4 linked regions of the Homo sapiens genome follow. The protein of the gene in region 1 purifies or fractionates together with the protein of each later gene. This does not show direct contact. Each region holds a gene or a part of one and is shown on either strand. Other genes may lie near its edges.

What was found. The genes of interacting proteins can lie anywhere in the genome.
Region 2: the proteins of RNASEH1 (region 1) and RBM26 purify together in Homo sapiens (affinity purification with mass spectrometry; one large-scale study listed by BioGRID and IntAct). This does not show direct contact.
Region 3: the proteins of RNASEH1 (region 1) and CDK13 purify together in Homo sapiens (affinity purification with mass spectrometry; one large-scale study listed by BioGRID and IntAct). This does not show direct contact.
Region 4: the proteins of RNASEH1 (region 1) and RBM27 purify together in Homo sapiens (affinity purification with mass spectrometry; one large-scale study listed by BioGRID and IntAct). This does not show direct contact.

What each region holds. Positions count from the first base shown.
Region 1 is NC_000002.12:3,540,930-3,545,954, forward strand, and holds the end of RNASEH1 (ribonuclease H1 isoform 1 precursor), read right to left. Parts: intron 4,963-5,025; coding exon of another isoform or gene 4,943-4,962; coding exon 4,856-4,942; 3' UTR 501-4,855; downstream 1-500. UniProt on the Homo sapiens protein: Endonuclease that specifically degrades the RNA of RNA-DNA hybrids.
Region 2 is NC_000013.11:79,399,025-79,404,049, forward strand, and holds part of RBM26 (RNA-binding protein 26), read right to left. Parts: exon of another isoform or gene 4,005-5,025; intron 1-4,004. UniProt on the Homo sapiens protein: May be involved in the turnover of nuclear polyadenylated (pA+) RNA.
Region 3 is NC_000007.14:40,085,462-40,090,486, reverse strand, and holds part of CDK13 (cyclin-dependent kinase 13), read right to left. Parts: intron 2,362-5,025; coding exon 2,156-2,361; intron 1-2,155. UniProt on the Homo sapiens protein: Cyclin-dependent kinase which displays CTD kinase activity and is required for RNA splicing.
Region 4 is NC_000005.10:146,258,311-146,263,335, reverse strand, and holds part of RBM27 (RNA-binding protein 27), read right to left. Parts: intron 4,888-5,025; coding exon 4,743-4,887; intron 2,592-4,742; coding exon 2,438-2,591; intron 1,827-2,437; coding exon 1,530-1,826; intron 1-1,529. Other genes in the region: RBM27-POU4F3, read right to left, coding at 1,530-1,826, 2,438-2,591, 4,743-4,887. UniProt on the Homo sapiens protein: May be involved in the turnover of nuclear polyadenylated (pA+) RNA.

The DNA of each region.
Region 1 (5,025 bases):
TGAGGTGACAAGTGTTGACAAGGATGTGGAGTGAACTGGAACTCTCCTGCCTGACTGGAGGGAATGTAAAGTGTAAAGTTCACACTTGGAAAAGTTTCACAGTTTCTTAAAAAGCACACACCAGCTGGCTGGGCTCACACTGTAATCCCAGCACTTTGGGAGGCCGAGGCAGGCGGATCACGAGGTCAGGAGATTGAGACCATCCTGACTAACACAGTGAAACCCCACCTCTACTAAAAATACAAAAAAATTAGCCGGGTGTAGTGGCGGGCACCTGTAGTCCCAGCTACTCGGGAGGCTGAGGCAGGAGAATGGTGTGAACCCGGGAGGCAGAGCTTACAGTGAGCCAAGATCACGCCACTGCACTCCAGCCTGGGTGACAGAGTGAGGCTCCATCTCCAAAAAAAAAAAAAGAAAAAAAGAGCACACACCTGCCATATGACCAAGCATTCCATTCCAAGGCATTTACCCAAGAGAAACAGAAGACAAAGACGAGGATATAAATGTTCACGGCAGCTTTATTTGCTTTATTTTTATTTAGAAATTGGAAATAATCGAAATATCGGTCAACAGGTAAATAAATAAACTGTGGTATATCCATGCAATACAAAATGTGGATTATTGATGTACACAAAATGGGTGAATGCCAAAATAATTATGCTGAGTAGAAGCACCTCCCCCCACAGTACTTGCTCTGCGATTCCACTCAGATAAAATTCTAGAATATATAAATTAACCTTTAGTGAGAGGGAGCAGACCAGTGGTTGCCTGAACATGGAGGACACGAGGGACGGTTTAGACCGGGGTGTGAAACTGCTGTTGGTGGTGATGGACATGTTCTGGCGACAGCTTCACAGGCAAATGCATCGGTCACTTCACGTATGTGCAGTTCATTACCTGTCAGTTACACCTCAACAGAGCTGTTTTAAAAAGCAAGGTGGGGCCGGCTTTGGTGGCTCACACCTGTAATCCCAGCACTTTGGGAGGCCAAGGAAGGAGGATCGCTTGAGGCCAGGAGTTTAAGACCAGCCTGGGCAACACAGTGAGACACTGTTCCTATTTTAAATAACAAAACAAAACAAAAGTGGTACAATAACAACTTTTAAAACTCAAAAAGAAACAAAGAAAGAGATAAAAGAGATTCAAGAGACAGTGGCAAACACTGAGAACAGCCAATTTAGATTTCAACATACAGATAACAGGGATCCCCACAGAAAAAAGCCAAAGCAAGAAAAATGTAACACTAAACTCCAGTTCAAGCAAATCTTCTTAAAATAACAGATATGAAGTACACATAGAAAGAGCACACCATACGCTTGCAAATATGGACCAGGACAACCAATACCAACACATGACACATTCGAATAAAACGGCCGACTTGACAGAAAAAGGAAAAAATCCTTTGGGCATCTAAGGAAAAACAGCATATGACTGTCAGGGGAAGAAAACAAGATTCATCAGGCTTTTCATGCATCACTTTATGCTGGAAGAAAACAGAATAAAACAAGATACTCAAAGAAAATCTGGGCCAAGAATTTCGTATCCAGCAAAACTGAATTCAACATCAGAAACTCAAGGAATACTGTCCCCAAGATGACACTGACTATAGACTGGTTATGAGACCTGAACACACAGAAATGAGTCAATGGTGGTAAAAAGGAGCAATTTTTCTGACAACGTAGACACAGTGCTGTTTTCATCATCACAATTAATGCTATGGTATTAGTATTTTTTTTAAATGCTAAATGCTAAAGAGGAATAAAACAAGTGAGTGATTAAGGGATGGATATTCCATGCCATTGTCCTGTGTCTTGAGAAGCAGGATTCCGAGTGCAGGAGACACAGACATCATATAGAGGAGGCTATGTAAAGGCCCCAGGACCCTGAATTTGTATTGGGAATATCAATATAGGCTCAGAAAATATTCTTCCTTTAAATATGTGTGTGCAATGTTTGTATTTTTTTAAAGCTCCGTCCAAAAATCTAGAAATAATGACCAACGCAATAGCAATGAGCATCCTAAACTGGATCTGAAATACCATCTCTACCAGAGACTCTGGGAAAAATAATGGATTCCAAGTGTTAAACGGAATTAAGTTTGGCCTAAAACTGCCTCTGTACATAGTGACTTATAACCTCACTTAATGTATAAGCAAACTGGGACCTGACTTGAGAGTACACTTCTGTAACAAGCAGCAGAGTCTCACCAATCACATGCTGAAGGCTCCCAAAACATGCCTATGTGAGGTGGAGGCTGACCTGCAGTCAGTCTGGCCATGTACATGTGTCTTTCCCTTCCTGTGGCTATAAATAAATACAGCCTGCACACAACGCACAGGAGAACGTTCTGAACCACTTTTGGTCCTGAGTGCTACCCAGCTGAAGAAACTATTTTCTGCTCAATTAAACTGCTAACTTGTCTAAAGTTTTTCTTTTAAGACAGGTTTGGAGCAGAAGCTCTATAAATTGGGCCTAGAGCATCTTGACATGCCAGGCTGCAGGGAGCTATCAATGACTGTGCGTGTGGTCTGTGCACACATGTATGCACACATGTGCACACTTATCAAAAGAAAGCAAGAGCCAAGCTGAAGAGGCTCCCTCTCACTGACCGAATAAGCTAGTCTGAGCTAAATAAAGATAAAAATCACAACGGATTGAAACCCACCAAGTATGCTTAACTCCACAAATTCTTTTTTTTTTTTAAGACAAGGACTTGCTGTCGCCCAGGCTGGAATGTGGTGGCATGGTCACAGCTCACGCATCCTCGACCTCCTGGGCCCAAGCGATCCTCCCATCTCAGCCTCCAGAATAGCTGGGACAACAGGCAGGCACTACCACACCCACCTGATTTTATTTTAATTTTCTGTAGAGACAGGGTGTCACTATGTTGCCCAGACTAGTCTCAAACTCCTGGGTTCATGTGATCCTCCAGCCTCAGCCTCCCAAAGTGCTGGGATTACAGGCATAAGACACCATGCCCAGCCCATGAATTCTTGTATATATGTAAAAACCCTTCACCACTCACCTTCCTTGACAGACAACTAATGCATTATCTTAAAAACTTAGTGTACAAGAGCAAAGAATCAAGCATTTATCCTGCCCTTCCTATATGAACTGTACCACTGGGTAACCAGATAAGTATAAAAAAGAAAACACTTTCTTAGAAAACCATTCCAGCTAATAAAGGCAAGCAAAACGACAGAATGAGAATACCACCATTTTGCAACCCCAAATAATTAATGGATCTTGGCACTGAGCATCAGCTGCCGTCAACATGGTACTTTCCTGAGGAAAGCTCCTAACCGCCTGTTCTCCTGCCAAAGGGATCAAATTTGAGGCTCATCAAGCCTCTGGACCCAGCTGCCAATGTGCAGGAAACATAGAGGACCATGCTGAACTACACCATGACCACGTGGTCAGCAAAATCTACACTGTGGGAAGCCATGGGACAAACAGCCCAGGCTCTTCAACAGATAAACGGCAGGGAAAACAGTGAGGCCGACGGGACTGCAAATGGACACTGAAGTAGATAAAAAAATAAACAAAAAAAAGCAGACAAGACTAAACTGCCATCAAAAAACCAAGAAAGTCATTTCTGTAAAAGTCAGGATTACTTGTTGGGGCAAGGAGGGGGAGAAGAAGAGGGCTGTGGCTGGAGGGGCACTTGGGAGAGCCTCCTGGGGTATCTGGCAAAGTACTATTTCTTCACCAGGTGGTGGACACAAAGGTTATTCACCTTACAATCATAATCATTCAATAAGCTATACATTTGTTTTGTGTCACTTCCTGTATGTTTTTATAATAAAAAGGTTTAAAACTAAATAAATAATCATGTCAAACTTTTACTACTTTTTTTTTTTTTTGAGACAGAGTCTCACTCTGTTGCCCAGGATGGAGTGCAGTGGTGCAATCTTGGCTCACTGCAACCTCTGCCGCCTGGGTTCAAGTGATTCTTGTGCCTCAGCCTCCCAAGTAGCTGGGACTACAAGCCCGTGCCACCACACCTGGATAATTTTTGTAATTTTAGTAGAGACAGGGTTTCGTCATGTTGGCCAAGCTGGTCTCAAACTCCTGACCTCAAGTGATCTGCCCGCCTTGGCCTCCCAAAGTGCTAGGATTACAGAAGTGAGCCACTGTGCCCAGCCGGTGTCTTACTTTTTTTTTTTTTTTTTTAATTTGCACAGTTTTTAACGAAAGAGCCAAATAAATTTTTGAAAGTTTATTTATGCTTCTTGGTCTTTATGAGTCGCAGCTGTTCCTAGAGAATGGCCTAGCAGCCAGGGTCGCCGCAGGCAGGCTTTGCCCTATACTAACTGCCCAGCAAGCAGGCACATGGGGCTGAGACCCAGCACACATCCTGCCCACTGAGCTGTCCGCCCAGGCCCTGGGCAGCATGTTCCTTTAATGTACCCATGGGCACAAGTCACCTATACAAGCAGGAGACTCAAACCTGTCAACTGGACGGTAAATGGATGCTTTCAGAATACTTCCAGACTTCTGAGTTGCATCTTTTAACCAATGGTTTTTTGATTTCTTATCAAAATATAAGCCACAGCATTTTAGGCCATTTGCCTTGCTTGCCTGCAATAAAACAAGCAAGGACAGTATTGAACCCAGTAAACATAATGTGGAAATCTCACATAATTCTCCAATCTCAAAGATGTTCAATTTATTATATACTTAACCATTTTTTATAAACACATGTCACAGAAGGCCACTGTGCCTGATTCCGTGTGAAAGACGCATCTGCCCATCACTGCAATGGTCCTACCTGCAGGCTATTTTCCACACCAGTAAGTACAGGCAGCAAGACAGCCGCTGGCTCAAGTTCTCCCAAGGACTAAAGTCACATGGCTCAGTCTTCCGATTGTTTAGCTCCTTCTCTGGCTAATCTGTCAGCTTCTTCATTGCCTATAAATCCCGAATGACCAGGAACATGCATCTGTTAAGATAAATGTTTTCCTTTTATTTTTACTCATCTTTACATAAGCAACACATGACTATATTGTCATCATAAAAAACCAT
Region 2 (5,025 bases), on another chromosome or scaffold:
TAATAATAAAGCTAAAATAACACGACTAAATAATTTAATGTACAAGTGATGAGTGTCATGACAACTGAAACCAGTGCTGAGAGAGAGGAGTCATGGTGGGAGGAGTCACTTCACCCAGCTGGATAGATCATAGGCAGCTTTCTGGAAGAACTGGAATCACACTTGATCTTTGACTTCAACACAAAGAAAGGATATAAAGACAGTACACCATAATACAACAAGGCTCTGGAATCAAAATGTCTTCTTTTGGATCCTGTCTCCATCACTTACTAGCTATGAATAAAGTATGCTAATTCATCTTCCTAACACCTATCTTGCACACAATGAATGTATAACAATTAACATATATTAATAGTAAGCACTCAATAAATGGTGCCCACTACTAATCTTCAGAAAAAAGAAACAGTAAAGTTTCAGAAAAAAGAAACAATAAAAAAAAATGACAGTGAATCACGAAAGTTCAGCTTTGCTGAAATTAAGACTCATATAAAAAGTAGAAAGATATAAATGGAAAAGATAATTTAAAGCAAATCATTAGCTTTCTTAAAGGCAAGCTAAAAAGTATGCAATTTATTATCTGGGAATGCTGAAGGTTTTGATCAAGCAATGGGATACAAACAAGGCTGGGCATCCATGTCAGAAGAACTGGAAGGGAGAAAGGCCTAGAGATAAAAACAGATTTGTTAGGAAGCAAACTGCAATCATTTAGATACGGAGTGTGAGCCCCCTACTAAGCAATGTCAGTAAGGATTATTAAGAGAGAACCTCATGACTAAGTGAATGGGAGGAAGGAGAAGCCAAAAAATTTCAAGCCAGCATAATTTGGAGAAATGAAATTAAAATAAGTGAATCCAGAAAACACTTCTTTTCAGAAATTAGTTTGAAGTTTAGATGAGCGATCCAAGCAGATATACAGCCAGCAATTAGAGATAAAAGCTTAAGACTGTGAAGAGTGGTTAAGTCTAAACATACTTATGTGAAAATAAATGCAGAGTAGAGGTTCTAGTTTGGAATCCATTAACAAGCTCAGAGTGAAAAGCTCTGAAATTCAATGCAAATGTGTATGTATTTGTAAATCCTAGGGAGACAGTCTTTAATCAGACTTTAAAGGATCTACAATATACACTCCAAAAAAAGTTTTTAAGAACCACTGGCATGTATTACAAAGAAAACCATTCATGGGAAAGGTCTTAGTCCGTTTGTGCTGCTATAACAGAATACCACAAGATGGGTAATTTATAAAGAAATTTATTGGCTCACAGTTCTGGAGGCTGGGAAGTCTCATATCAAGGTACTGGCAGGTTTGGCAATTCTGATTCCAAGATAGACCTTGAACACTGCATCCTCCGGAGTTCCTCCCATGGCAGAAGTCAGAGGTCTCCCATAGCAGAAGTCAGAGGGGCAGAGGCAAAACCTAACCTTTTATAAAGGCATTAATCCAATCAACAAAGGCAGAGCCCTCGTGACCTAATCACCTCTTAATACTTAACGAAATTAAATTTCAACATGAATTCTGGAGAAGACAAACATTCAAATCTTAGCAGTAATTAATGAAATGTCAGAAGTAAAAAATGGATGAAGAAAAAAATGTCAATGTAACAACACTGAAAAATACAATTAGAATCTGAAGAAAAGGAACAAAAGAGGGTAAGACTGACTTAAGAAAAGGAACCAACACATTAGGGATTCAAGGCAAGTAAGTTAAAAAGGTGGCATCAACACTGATGTTATACACGCATAGGGCAAAAAATATAAAACTTCAGGCAATAAATATAAATTGATTGGTAACACTGAGGTAAGTAATTTTGGTTGTAATTATATTACAACGAAGAAATTCTATTCCAAGACATTAAGAAGTAAATGGCTGAGGGCAAATTAACAAAAAATTAAAAGTCTGACTACTACTTCAAGATTTACCAGCGACAGGAACAGAAAGCTAGCAAGAAAGTGACTAGAAGCGTTTTATCTTTTGTTTTGTTTTTTGCTATTATTGCTGAGTTTTTCCTAAAGAATGGGAAATGGACTTACTATGCCAAAAGAAGCCAACTGAAAAGGAAAGGTCAAAGGAATCAAAAATACTCAAAAGTTCAGGAGTAAAAAGATCATTTAGCCAACCCAAAAGAATAACTCTTCCTATCAGACACGAACAAAAATAAATTTTAATGTGGTGAGAAAGGTGTAGTAACAAGTACAGGTGAAGGGGAAAAATACTACAAAAACCACAAAGATGTTTATTTCTTAAACTCTAAAGCACTGATAATCACGATGCTTTAGAACTTTGTTCTTTTACAATAGTAGCCAATACTATCAAAATGTCATAGTAAAAAAGTATATGCAGTAACAGAAAACACTAGGATGCTGCATTCTGTAGTAGTAAATTAAGAATATGCACACAGCTCTAGAGTCAAAAAGCCTTAGTTTAAATCACTGTGGGCAAATAACTTCATGCTTCAGTGCCTCAGTATCATCACCTGCAAAATGGAGAGATAACAATGCTTACCTCATAAAACTTGTAAGTACAATAATACAAAATGTTTAACAACAATGCATACAGTTTAGGTGGTAGTCACAGCAGGAGTGTTGGTGATAATTCTAACAGTAGCAACAGTAGTAATGTAGCCTATCTGTGTTTAATCAACCAATATCTAAGAAAGGAGGGGAAGGGCAAGGCTCACAAACATGTGTCCCATTCAACCCTTTCAACTATAGATGGAAATACTGTAATTCTTCCTATTATACCAATAAGGAAAGAGGAGGTTTCTTTGCCTAGACAGCTAATAAATGGCAGAAGTGAGATTTGAATACTGATCTGGACACAGAGATCTTCCTTCCACCACACACTTCCTCCACAGCACTACACAGTGGCAGAAGCACAACACTAGGCATTTTGTTCTTTACTACTCAACTCACAAAACCTCAGTACGTCATTACATCCACCTGCCCCTCAATTTTATTTTCTAAAAAATTAAAGTTTCATTAGATGTTTAGGTGTCTCTTCAGGAAAAAAAAAAAAACATGACTTTGATGTGTAAGTCCACCTAAAAGTTTTAAATACAGTAGAAAGTGTTTTCTGTTTTTTTTGTTTGTTTAAAAGTTTACTACAACAAAGGAGCTTAATTTTTTTTTCAGGACTTCTCATCATCAAAACGAAATGTTAGAAAAAAGACTAACATTTAGTTTCATATTATTGGCAAGTATGACTAAGCAAATCTTTGAGATAACAAAACATCAATCTTAAGCATTTCAAGATGACAATTTTAATAAAGTTCAAAATTCTCAATTTATGAAAAAGACATTGAAAATTATTTTCAATAATTTATGAAACTCAGAACCCTGATACATGTACAGAAGTTATGAAACAGTAAATACAGATATGCAGACTTCTATTTCACGCTGAAAACACAGCCAGGCTTTTTTTTTTTTTTTTAAACATCCATCTGAAAACCCTCTTGCCCTAAAACCCTTCACTGGCTTCCCACTATCCTTCAATAACATCCAAAGTCTTAAACATGACTCAACAAAGTCCTGTGTGATCTGGCTCCTATCTCTGGAGCTTTCCACTGCCATTCTTCTCCTTTGCTTTTTTCTATTTCTTTCAATTCCTCCAACATATCTTTTTTGTCCATTTTTAGGACCTCCATACAATCTGTTCACCAAACCTATAACGCTTTCACAGGTCTCCAATCCCATCCTTTTGCCCCAGCAAAGTATTCTTCATCCTTCCAAGCTGAGATAAACATTACACCAGGGAAGTGTTTCCTGATGTTCCCAGACTTCAACACCTATCTTTCCTGCTAAATGGTAAATAAAATGAAGTGAGTCATTTCATGTCTTGTTACCTACTATATCTTGCACACTGCTTAGCACAGAGTAGGTTAAGTACTCTTAAAATAAATGTTTGCTGAATTAACACATTCAAAATGTGGAGTAAGTCCAAAACCATGAAGTATTTAACCACCACAGGTAACTAAAAAGTTTTATGTAAGTTTCAAGTTACAGCTTACCCTTGGTCCTCTGTATGTTCCTCTCTCAAACAGAGGTCGTTTGGTAATTACAATGTTAAAGCAAAAAAAAAAAAAAATTCCTTTTAGATAACAGATCATAACATTTCACAAAACCAACGTTAGAAACCACTGATCCATAATTGGGATCAGCTTTTATAAGTCATCATACAAAAGAATCCACCTGAAATGCAATTAAAAGGACAAGAACTTGAATAAGGGCTCAATTTTACCACAGCTACACACATTAGAAAAGGACCAATTACAATTCCCAGTGTCTAGGCTCTACTAGCAGAGCCTTATTTATTACAACATAATGACTGCAGTGCTACAGCCATCGAGAGTAGGCTTTATGATACATGGAATATGTTTCATTAAGACTAAAGAAAAATTACAAGCATACACTCTAAGTAGCTACAGTCTTCTCATTTAGGTAAGATGGAGGGATACGGCAGTAAATCTAATATGAAACTGAACGCTTAAAGGAAAGCTATTTCAATCCAAAACATTTATAAGTTTTGTATTCACCTAATAACTACTGAATGCTAATTACACACCAGACAGTAGTCTAAGATTTCCTTAATATACACCCATTATTTTCCCAATTTTACAGTTGAGGAAATGGAAGCCCTGAGTTAAGTAACTTACCCAATATCATACAGCTGGTAAGTGGCAGAGGCAGAATTCAAAGCCAGACATTCTGCTCCAGAGTTCTCCTCACCGCTATACTATGATGCCCACTCTCCAATACACCGAAATAGGACTTCCATCTGCACAACTCTACTCCAGTGAAACTATTTTGCTAAGGTTACCAATGACTTCCACTTTGCTAAATCTAAGGGCTACCTATTTGCCTCCATTTTTTCATGCATTCTGCAGCATTTCATAAACTCCTCTCTTTTGCCATACACTTGTTTTTTAATGACATAAAGCCCAGTTTTCCTCCTGCCTCAGTACTAGGCCCTCTTCTCTTCCCTACCTACACACTTTTTCTATGAAATTTCCCACAATGTCATCGTCTTAA
Region 3 (5,025 bases), on another chromosome or scaffold:
AGTTACTCTGGAGTCTGAGGCAGGAGAATCACTTGAACCTGGGAGGCGGAGATTGCAGTGAGCTGAGATCGTGTCACTGTACTCCAGCCTGGGTGACAGAGACTGTCTCAAAAAAAAATTAAAGTTAAAAAAGGAAAATAAAAAATAAAATTATCCACCATTAAAACAGGGTTGTAAAGTAAGTTAGAGCAAATTAACAACAAAATGAGCCCAGAAAGGGCAAATCATTTTTTACCAGCTAAAATGAGTAAACTACTACGTTTGGTAGAGTTTAAGACATCAGTTCCATGAAGAGGACCAGAAATAAAGACCTGAGAGTCTTGCCAAATATGACAACTGTTGCCTGGGAAAACAGATCACCATCCAAAATTTCTGTTATTGCCATTTCACATCCTTTTGTTAGCAGGACAAATATTTTAATGTATAAGGGGAACTCACTATTTCAAGAAAGAATACTTTTGAACAACAAATAACAATTGCTTTTGGTATTCATTGAATGAGTACTTTAAGTATGCAGTTGAACCAAGGTCAAGTAGAAGCTTGTAGACTACATTGGCAAGCATTAATGGTTATCTTCCTAAAGCTTTCTCAGTTAATCTATATTTATCTTCAACCACCAAAAGTTCAGTCTGATCCACACATCTGTTTTAATCAACTAACTCATCAATCAACATATACTCATCTCTTAAGAAGTGCTAGTCTATTTTTTCATGTTTAATAAGCCACCACCTACACACACACACACACACACACACACACACACTCTCTCTCTCTCTCTCTCTCTCTCTATTTTATATCAGTCTCTGTTTTCATAAAACTTCAACTAAAGATGGTGTTAAATTAAAGATGGGTGTTTCTGGATGTTTTAGGCAAAATGAGGGAGTGGAGGTCCTTTTAAAAAGTTGTTAAATGATTTTAACACTCTTGACAACATTGAAGAGGCAGACTTTGCATCAAAAAGCTTACTCTATGACAGACTGAGTCAAAGGAAGAAATTTAAGTTTCCCTAAAATAACTAGATATAAGATATCCTTTTTTTTTTTTTTTTTGAGACAGTCTCGCTCTGTCACCCAGGCTGGAGTGCAGTGGTTCAATCTTGGCTCACTGCAACATCTGCCTCCTGGGTTCAAGCAATTATCGTGCCTGAGCCTCCTGAGTAGCTGGGATTACAGGTGTGTGCCACCATGCCCAGCTAATTTTTTTTTTGTATTTTTAGTAGAGACAGAGTTTCAGGAAGTTGTCTGGGCTGGTCTCGAACTCATGGGCTCAAGTGGTCTGCCCATCGTGGCCTCCCAAAGAGCTGGGATTACAGATGTGAGCCACCATGCCTGGCCTTCCCTTCTCATATTTTAAGTTATTTTGGGCACAAATATCAGATTCACTCACACACACACACACACATATTTTGAGATGGAGTCTCGCTCCTGTCGCACAGGCTGGAGTGCAGTGGCGCAATCTCGGCTCACTGCAACCTCCACCTCCCCAGTTCAAGCGATTCTTCTTCCTCAGCATCCGAGTAGCTGGGATTACAGGTGTGTGCCACCACGCCCGGCTAATTTTTGTATTTTTAGTAGAGACGGGGTTTCGCGATGTTGGCCAGGCTAGTCTCGAACTCCTGATCTCAGGTGATCCATCCGCCTCAGTCTCCCAAAGTGCTAGGATTACAGGCGTGAGCCAGCATGCCTGGCCCCAATCTTTAAGATTCTTTAATATAACCAGAGAAATTATAACATTAGGAGTGACATGAGGACGCTATAAATGGTATGAAAGAGCTCTCATTATGATTTTTGGCTGTTTTCTTATACCTTTCTTCCTACTGCTTAAGCATCTATAGACATTGAATGCTGAGCCTCACTGAGAGTAGTGTCAGTAAAAGACCTACTCACTCCTGCACTAAGAGTAAAAAGGAAATACAGAAATCCGAGGACTTGCCAGTCAGGTAATTTGATGCTTCTTTATAAGTTACCTTAAGATTACTTAAAATTGTGGTGCCAATAGCAATGAAACTTCTGTACTGGCACAAAGAAATGTCTAGTTCAGTGAATAAATGTTAATTTTCATTGTTAGCCACAAGATGCTTTAACATTAGAGCAATATGATCAGAATTAACTGCAAAACAATGTGAAGAAAACCAACCCATGGAAGCATTACTGACCAGGTGCCACATTTGAGCTGCCCTGAGATTTCAGCTGTGAAGATGGCAGCACACCCTGGGGTGTGTTGGTTCTGCTGTCATCCAAGCCCAGAGACAAGTCCTTCCTGGGGGCTTTAATTGTGGAAACATCATCAGTCATGCCCATCTGCTTCTGTCTTCTTCGCTTTTTACTCCATAACTCATGACAATCTTGCCATAAAGGGAGACTGAAAAAAAAAAAGGAATTAAATTGTAAATGGCATTTCTTAACAAAAAATGCTACAGTTACTATATAGCAACAAAGTTATGCCCCCACCCCAAATAGTTCTTGAAGACTTCATAGAATGGCTCTGTAAAACTCTTCCAATAAAAATCATCCTTATTGTCCCACTTCCTTCAGGGCTTGCTTTGCCTTTACAGATAATCTATTTTTCTTTGGCTTTTGAATAATCAATAAATAATCATTTATCAAAATTATGAATGAAGAATATATATTCATAAAAATAGGCTACTATGCTGGGCATGCCTGTAATCCCAGCACTTTGGGAGGCCGACATAGGTGGATCATCTGAGGTCAGGAGTTTGAGATCAGCCTGGCCAACATGGCAAAACCCCGTTTCTACTAAAAATACAAAAATTAGCCAGGCGTGGTGGCGGGCACCTGTAATCCCAGCTACTCAGGAGGCTGAGGCAGGAGAATGGCATGAACCCGGGAGGTGGAGGTTGCGGTGAGCCGAGATTGCGCCACTGCACTCCAGCCTGGGTGACACAGCGAGACTCCGTCTCAAAAAAAAAAAAAAAAAAAACACCACTATTGCTGTTGGTGCAACCTTTCAAAGTCAGTTCTTATGATAGTACATCATACACTGAATAAGACATGAAAAAGAAGGCAGAAAAATATGCCATTTCCAGCCAGGCACAGTGGCTCACGCCTATAATCCCAGTGCTTAGGGAGGCCAAGACGGGAGGATTGCTTGAGCCCAGGAGTTCAAGACCAGCCTGGGCAACATGGCAAAACCCTGTCTTTGCCAAAAATACAAAAATTAGTTGGGCATGATGTTGTGCACTGCAGTCCCAGCTACTTGGGAGGCTGAAGTGGGAGAATAGCTTGAGCCCAGGTGGTGGTGGTTGCAGTGAGCTGAGATCATGTAACTGCACTCCAGCCTAGGCGACAGAACCAGGCCCTGTCACACAAAAAAGAAAAACATGCCATTTGCAGAAACCAGATATGGGATAAAAAAGTAGTAAAGGGCCAGGCGCAGCAGCTCATGCCTGTAATCCTGGCACTTTGGGAGGCTAAGGTGGGTGGATCACTTGAGCTCAGGAGTTCACCAGCATGGGCAACATGCTGAAACCCTGTCTCTATAAAAAAATTAGCCAGTCATGGTGGCACATGTCTGTAGTCCCAGCTACTCGGGAAGCTGAGGTGGGAGGATGGCTTCAGCCCAGGAGGCAGAGGCTGCAGAGAGCCAAGATCATGCCACTGCACTCTGGCCTGGGTGACAGAGCCAGACCCTATCTCAAAAAAAAAAAAAAAAAAAAAGAGTAAGGCTAGAACATAACATTTGTGAAGAACTTAACAGTAAAAGCTTACTTTTTACTAACTTGCTTGTCTATCCAAATGCTCTAGAATTAAACTGATGCTACAGACGAGTTTTCAAAATAGGTAATCCTGGCATAGAGCGGCTCATCATTTATCAACAGAGTTGCGAATAACAACTATCAAAACTGCCCACAATTCCTAGTCAATTCTATCTTAAAGTAACTTCATACAACTGATAACACTAGAGAATAACTTTTGCTTAAAGATACAAATATTTGGTTTATAAATGCTTTCTTCTTACCCTAATTAAGTATTTAATGGAACGTTACTGTTGTACCTATTTTAAAGATGAGAAACTTGAGGCTTAGAAAGGTGAATAAACTTGCCCAGAATATCTACAAATTCCCTTAAGCAACCCCACCTGGTAATATATACCTATAATCCTCAACCTGGATCTGTTTACCTCTAGGAGGTACCCGAAGACTCTCCAAGAGGGTACACCTGGAATTTTTTTAAAGGAATTTCCATATCCATATGTCTGCTTTCCTAAGACTGAGCTTTGAGGATGGCCTGCTTGTTTAAGCAAGTTCTTTTACATCTCCTCTTTCACAATTAGTCATGTTATAAAATAAAGGCAGATGCAATAATATGGTTGAATCTTAGCAATATTAGTTTAAAAAGTCATTCCCAAAATATTACAAACAGCATGACGCGCTTTTATAAAATTAACAACTAAAATTTTTAAAATATAACCTTTTATGAGTACATATAGATGGCAACAAAAAGTATATACAAAAGAAAACAGGGATGATGGTTACCTCAGGTGGAGGAAGGCAAGGGGATAGGTTGGTGGGGGTAGGGGTAATATGATTACAGTATGTTATTTTCAGCATTCTAGCTTTTGTTTGGTAGGTTCATGGCTGCTTATTAACATTATTAAAAATAACTAAAGTAACTAAAATAAATAAAAGAGAGCCATGCATGGACCAATGATGAGTGACACAAGGATTATGATTAAACCAAGTCTATGCACCTGAGGTCCAAAAACAAAACAAAGGCATACCTCTCAGCCATCTTACTATGATGCATTGCCTCAGCGTGTAAAAACCTCCTGGAGTAACAAACAAAGGGACAATTTGAAATATCGATATTGGGAAGCTTTCAGGCATCATAAACCCGCCAAAGAATTTCCTTTCTAAGTGTTTGTATGATATGATGTGGGTCTCAGTCTCTGTTGGGATACCTTAAATTCAGATATACTGTAGTACTGCACAGTGGGGTAACTGGAGTGATTCCACCTTTCTATCCTGAAGCTCAGGGAATGCATTGCTCTTGAAGGACAGCCCCA
Region 4 (5,025 bases), on another chromosome or scaffold:
GGTGAATATACAAATGATAGATTATTCATACTTTTTGGGATGTCTAAAACATATCACAACAAAATATACATGCACCTACACACAAAAAAACCATTAATTATTTTTTAATGTTTCCTCTAGTATGCAATGCTCTGAAAGAATTAGAGGGTCTTGGCTGGGCACAGTGGCTCACACATATAATCCCAGCACTTTGGGAGGCCAAGGTGGGTGGATCACCTGAGGTCAGGAGTTCAAGACCAGCCTGGCCAACATGGTGAAACCCCGTCTCTACTAAAAATACAAAAATTGGGCAGGGGTGGTGGCATGCACCTGTAGTCGCAGCTACTCAGGAGGCTGAGGCAGGTAGCCTGAACCAGGAGGCAGAGGTTGCAGTGAACCAAGACTGAGCCACTGCACTCTAGCCTGAATGACGACAAAGCAGGACTGTCTCAAAAAAAAAAAAAAAGGAAAAAAGAAGAAGAAAAGAATTAGGGGGTCTTAACTGACAGTGGCTTAATATGAATAATTGTGAAATGATCACCTCAAAAACATAATGCAATCTTGGGCTGTACTAACAGAACATGTTTAATCATCACCATGAAGGTGATAGTATGAACTCTTTTCTACACTATTCACCCAACATCTAGGGGAAGCATTCACCTTTGCACCCTTACATGAAGTGGGATACAAACATAACTGAAAGAGAATTTAGATGCAAATGAGCAGGATGATAAATGGAGTTGATGCCATGTACTGTAAGGAATACTTTTTAAAAATCTGACTGTATTTAATCTAAGCATGAGATTATCTAGGTCAATCTCTGAATGGCTCTGATGTGTGGTAGTTTGTTGTTTTGTTTTTTCCTTCCTTCATCTATTCAATCAAATATGCTTTGAGCAATATGTACCAGACATTGTTTTAGGCACTAGGGATAGAATGGACACAACAGGCAAAATTCCAATTCTCTTGGAGCTTCTATTCCCATTTTTAGAAGGAACATATAACTTTTTTACATGGGAAAAAGGAGGGCAAATGGGTAGACACAAAAAAGACTGATTCTAAAAAATAAATAGCTCTACAGTTAAAGTTGCTCTGTGGTAGATGGTTATTATACTTTAGGGTGCATAACAATAACTTAAGAGTACTTGTTAAATATGTATATTTATAGGCCCTGTATCTAGAGACTGACTCTACAGAGGTTTGAGAAGCTGAAGCCCAGAAATTTGCACCCAGGTAAGTGATTCTGATGTAAAATAGCAGGTCTCAAACTTTAAGGTATGTAAGAATCACCAGGAGAGCTTGTTAAAACACAAATCCTTGGGCCCCACCCATAGGGATTCTGATTCAGTAGGATGGAGTATGGCTCAAGAATCTGAAATTTTTCCCCCAAGAATCTGCATTTCTATAAGATCCCAGGAGATCAGATGCTACTGGTCTGCAGTTCAAATTAAGAGTAGCTCTTCTGTAGAAGACCCAAGGACCAGGAATTGAAAAATACTGATCTAGAGGGTGTAACTAAAAGACCTTTAATTCCCAGTGAACCAGATTACCTTCTGGATACCTCCGTGCACTGTTGAAGGAGCAGACTGGGCCACTAGCACCTGCTGCTGATGTAGATGCTGTGGCAGGTGATGGTGCTGCTGTGAGAGGTGACTAAGTGTTTGCTGTTGTTGCAGGAGCAGCTGTGCTGAGGACTGTAGTGTCGGTTGCTCATTATTTTCCCTATGCCACAAGACTCGAATGAATCGGTTGTTTAGAACTGCTTCTGTGCTAGAAATGGCTTTCCTGGCCTCCTCATTGGTAAGATATTGGATTAGGGCTGCTTCTGGGTCACCCTTAAAAGCAACCTTGAAGAAAATAAAACAATATAAATTCCCAAAAACAGAAAATAGTTAAATAAATTATGACCCACTGCTATGTAATGAATGTTTTCCCCAAAATACACATGTTAAAGCCCTAAACTCCAACATTACTGTTTTAGAGATAGAGCTTTTAGGATGTAATTAAGGTTAAATGAGGTCACAAAGGTGCATCCTAATGAATAGTATCGGTGGCCTTAAAAGAAGAGAAAGAGATCTGCCCTGACCCCCTCTTTCTCTTTCTCTGTCTGCCATGTGAGAACACAAGAAGCCAACCATCTGCAAGCGAGGAAGACAGCACTCCCTAGGAAATGAATCATCCAGCACCTTGATCTTGGACTTCTCAGTCTCCAAAACTGTGAGGCTACCCATTCTCTTTCAGGAAGAGATTGCAGAAAAGAACCAAATGAATTCACAAGAACAAACATGGTTTAACAAGTCCATCATAAAAGTGGGTATATAGATATATGGTGGCATTTACAGCACTTAGCAGAGATGATCAGAATAACCACTGACTCATTTAAACAAGGTGAGCTGATAGAAATATTCCCAAGACCCATAAAATGCCTGGATTCTGTCACTGACATAGCCACATTTACCTGGATATTAACAATAGTTCCAAATTTGCTGAAGTGTTCATTGAGCTTGGTAATGTTGTTCAATTCCTGAGGGATTTTCTTGACTTCTAATTTGGTGTTTGTATACTGATTCTTTCGTAAGAACCCTGGTTTATTTTGATTGTTATTTCCTTGCCTAAAAGGAAGATTAATACATCTTGGTTAATTCTCCTACTTCATGCCTAGCAAAGAGATATAACCACAAAGAATTTAGGTTTATAATTTTTTTAAGTGCCTTTTGTGGCTGGGCATGGTGGCTCCACCTATAATCCCAGAAAACTTCTTCAAAATCATATGAAACATTATATTCAAAATTCAAACCACAGAAAATACATAAGCATCCAGAAACAGATTACAGGCTGAGCGAAGTAGCTCATGCCTGTAACGCCAGCACTCTGAGAGGCCAAAGCAGGAGGATTGCTTGAGCCCAGGGGTTCCAGACCAGTCTGGGGAACATAGTAAGACCACATCTCTATGTAATAAATTAACTGATTGATTAATTTGTTTAAAGTTCCTTTTGTGAGCCCTTAACATTCTTCGGAAATTACTAAGCAATTTTCACATTCTTCTTTTTTTTTTTTGTAGACGGAGTCTCACTCATTCGCCCAGGCTGGAGTGCCGTGGAACAATCTCGGCCCACTGCAACCTCCACCTCCCAAGTTCAAGTGATTCTCCTGCCTCAGCTTCCTGAGTATCTGGGATTACAGGTGCATGCCAACACGCACGACTAATTTTTGTATGCTTAGTACAGACAAGGTTTCACCATGTTGGCCAGGCTGGTCTTGAACTCCTGGCGTCGGTGATCTACCCGTCTCGGCCTCCCAAAGTGCTGGCATTACAGGTGTGAGCCACTACGCCCGGCCAACATTATTCTTTTTTTTTTTTTTTTTTTTTTTTTTTTGAGACGGAGTCTCGCTCTGTCGCCCAGGCCGGACTGCGGACTGCAGTGGCGCAATCTCGGCTCACTGCAAGCTCTGCTTCCCGGGTTCACGCCATTCTCCTGCCTCAGCCTCCCGAGTAGCTGGGACTACAGGCGCCCGCCACTGCGCCCGGCTAATTTTTTGTATTTTTAGTAGACACGGGGTTTCACCTTGTTAGCCAGGATGGTCTCGATCTCCTGACCTCATGATCCACCCGCCTTGGCCTCCCAAAGTGCTGGGATTACAGGCGTGAGCCACCGCGCCCGGCCACATTATTCTTATTACATGAGAATAGAAAAGGTGAACAGCAATAGATTACAAAAAGAAAAGGCCCAACTAACACTTAAAATCATATGCTAAATAGATCTACCATAAAGATCTACCACAATTATCAAAGACTCTAACATCATTAAATGAAGGCTAGAACACCACCTTTTTTTTTTTTTTTTTTTTTTTGAGACAGAGTTTTGTTCTTTTTGCCCAGACTGGAGTGCAATGGTGCAATCTCAACTCACTGCAACCTCCGCCTCCCAGGTTCCAGCGATTCTCCTGCCTCAGCCTCCCAAGTTGCTGGGATTACAGGCGCGTGCCACCACACCTGGCTAATTTTGTATTTTGGCTTTCTCCATTTTGGTCAGGCTGGTCTCGAACTCCTGACCTCAAGTGATCCACCCGCCTTGGCCTCCCAAAGAGCTGGGATTATAGGCGTGAGCCACTGTGCCCAGCTAGAACATCATCTTTAACGGCATATTTTCAACTTCTGCAAAGGTACTAAGCTTTTTTTTTTCACCGTTGATTTCATTTTTTTCTTCTTTTCTATCCATTGCTAGTGTCTCAGTAATTTCTAATATTGGGTTAGGCGTAGAAATAGGTAGGTACGAATTAGAAATACCTATTTTGGGCTGGATGTGGTAGCTCACACCTGTAATCCCAGCACCTTGGGAGGCCAAGGTGGGTGGATCACCTGAGGTCAGGAGTTTGAGACCAGCCTGACTAACAAGGTGAAACCCCATCTCCGCTAAAAATACAAGAAAATCAGGTGGGCATGGTGGCTGGCACCTGTAATCTCAACTACTCAGGAGGCTGGGACAAGAGAATCACTTCAACCCAGGAGGCAGAGGTTGAGGTGAGCTGAGATTATACCATTGCACTCCAGCCTGGATGACTACGTCTTTTAAAAAAAAAAAAAAAATTATAAATATTGTTAACTTTTTAATTTTTACAACATTCTAAAGATGTCTCCTGGAACCCTAACTTCAAGATACCTAGTTTGAAAAACATTAATTAATGACAAATCTTATTTTTATGAATTTACCAATGCAAACGACAATAACAATTAGATGCTACTAATTAGCAAATTATCTTACTTTCCCAGCCAAGGTTTCTTTGTGAGTGGCCCTTCCAAACCACTCATAGCTCTTTTTCGACTATCTGGTTCAAGAACTACTCTGGTTATGTTGCTATTAATCGAAACAGGAACTGGTGGTTCAGTCTGGATCACAATGTTAGCAGCTGTTGGAAAAAAAAATTGAAATTACTGAGTTTTTCAGGAGTCTCAATGATTAATATATTTAGTCTAAAAGCTAAAAACTACTATGAATAGCTCAACTACTATCATTTCTCTTTTAGAAATGCCTAACAGAAGAAAAA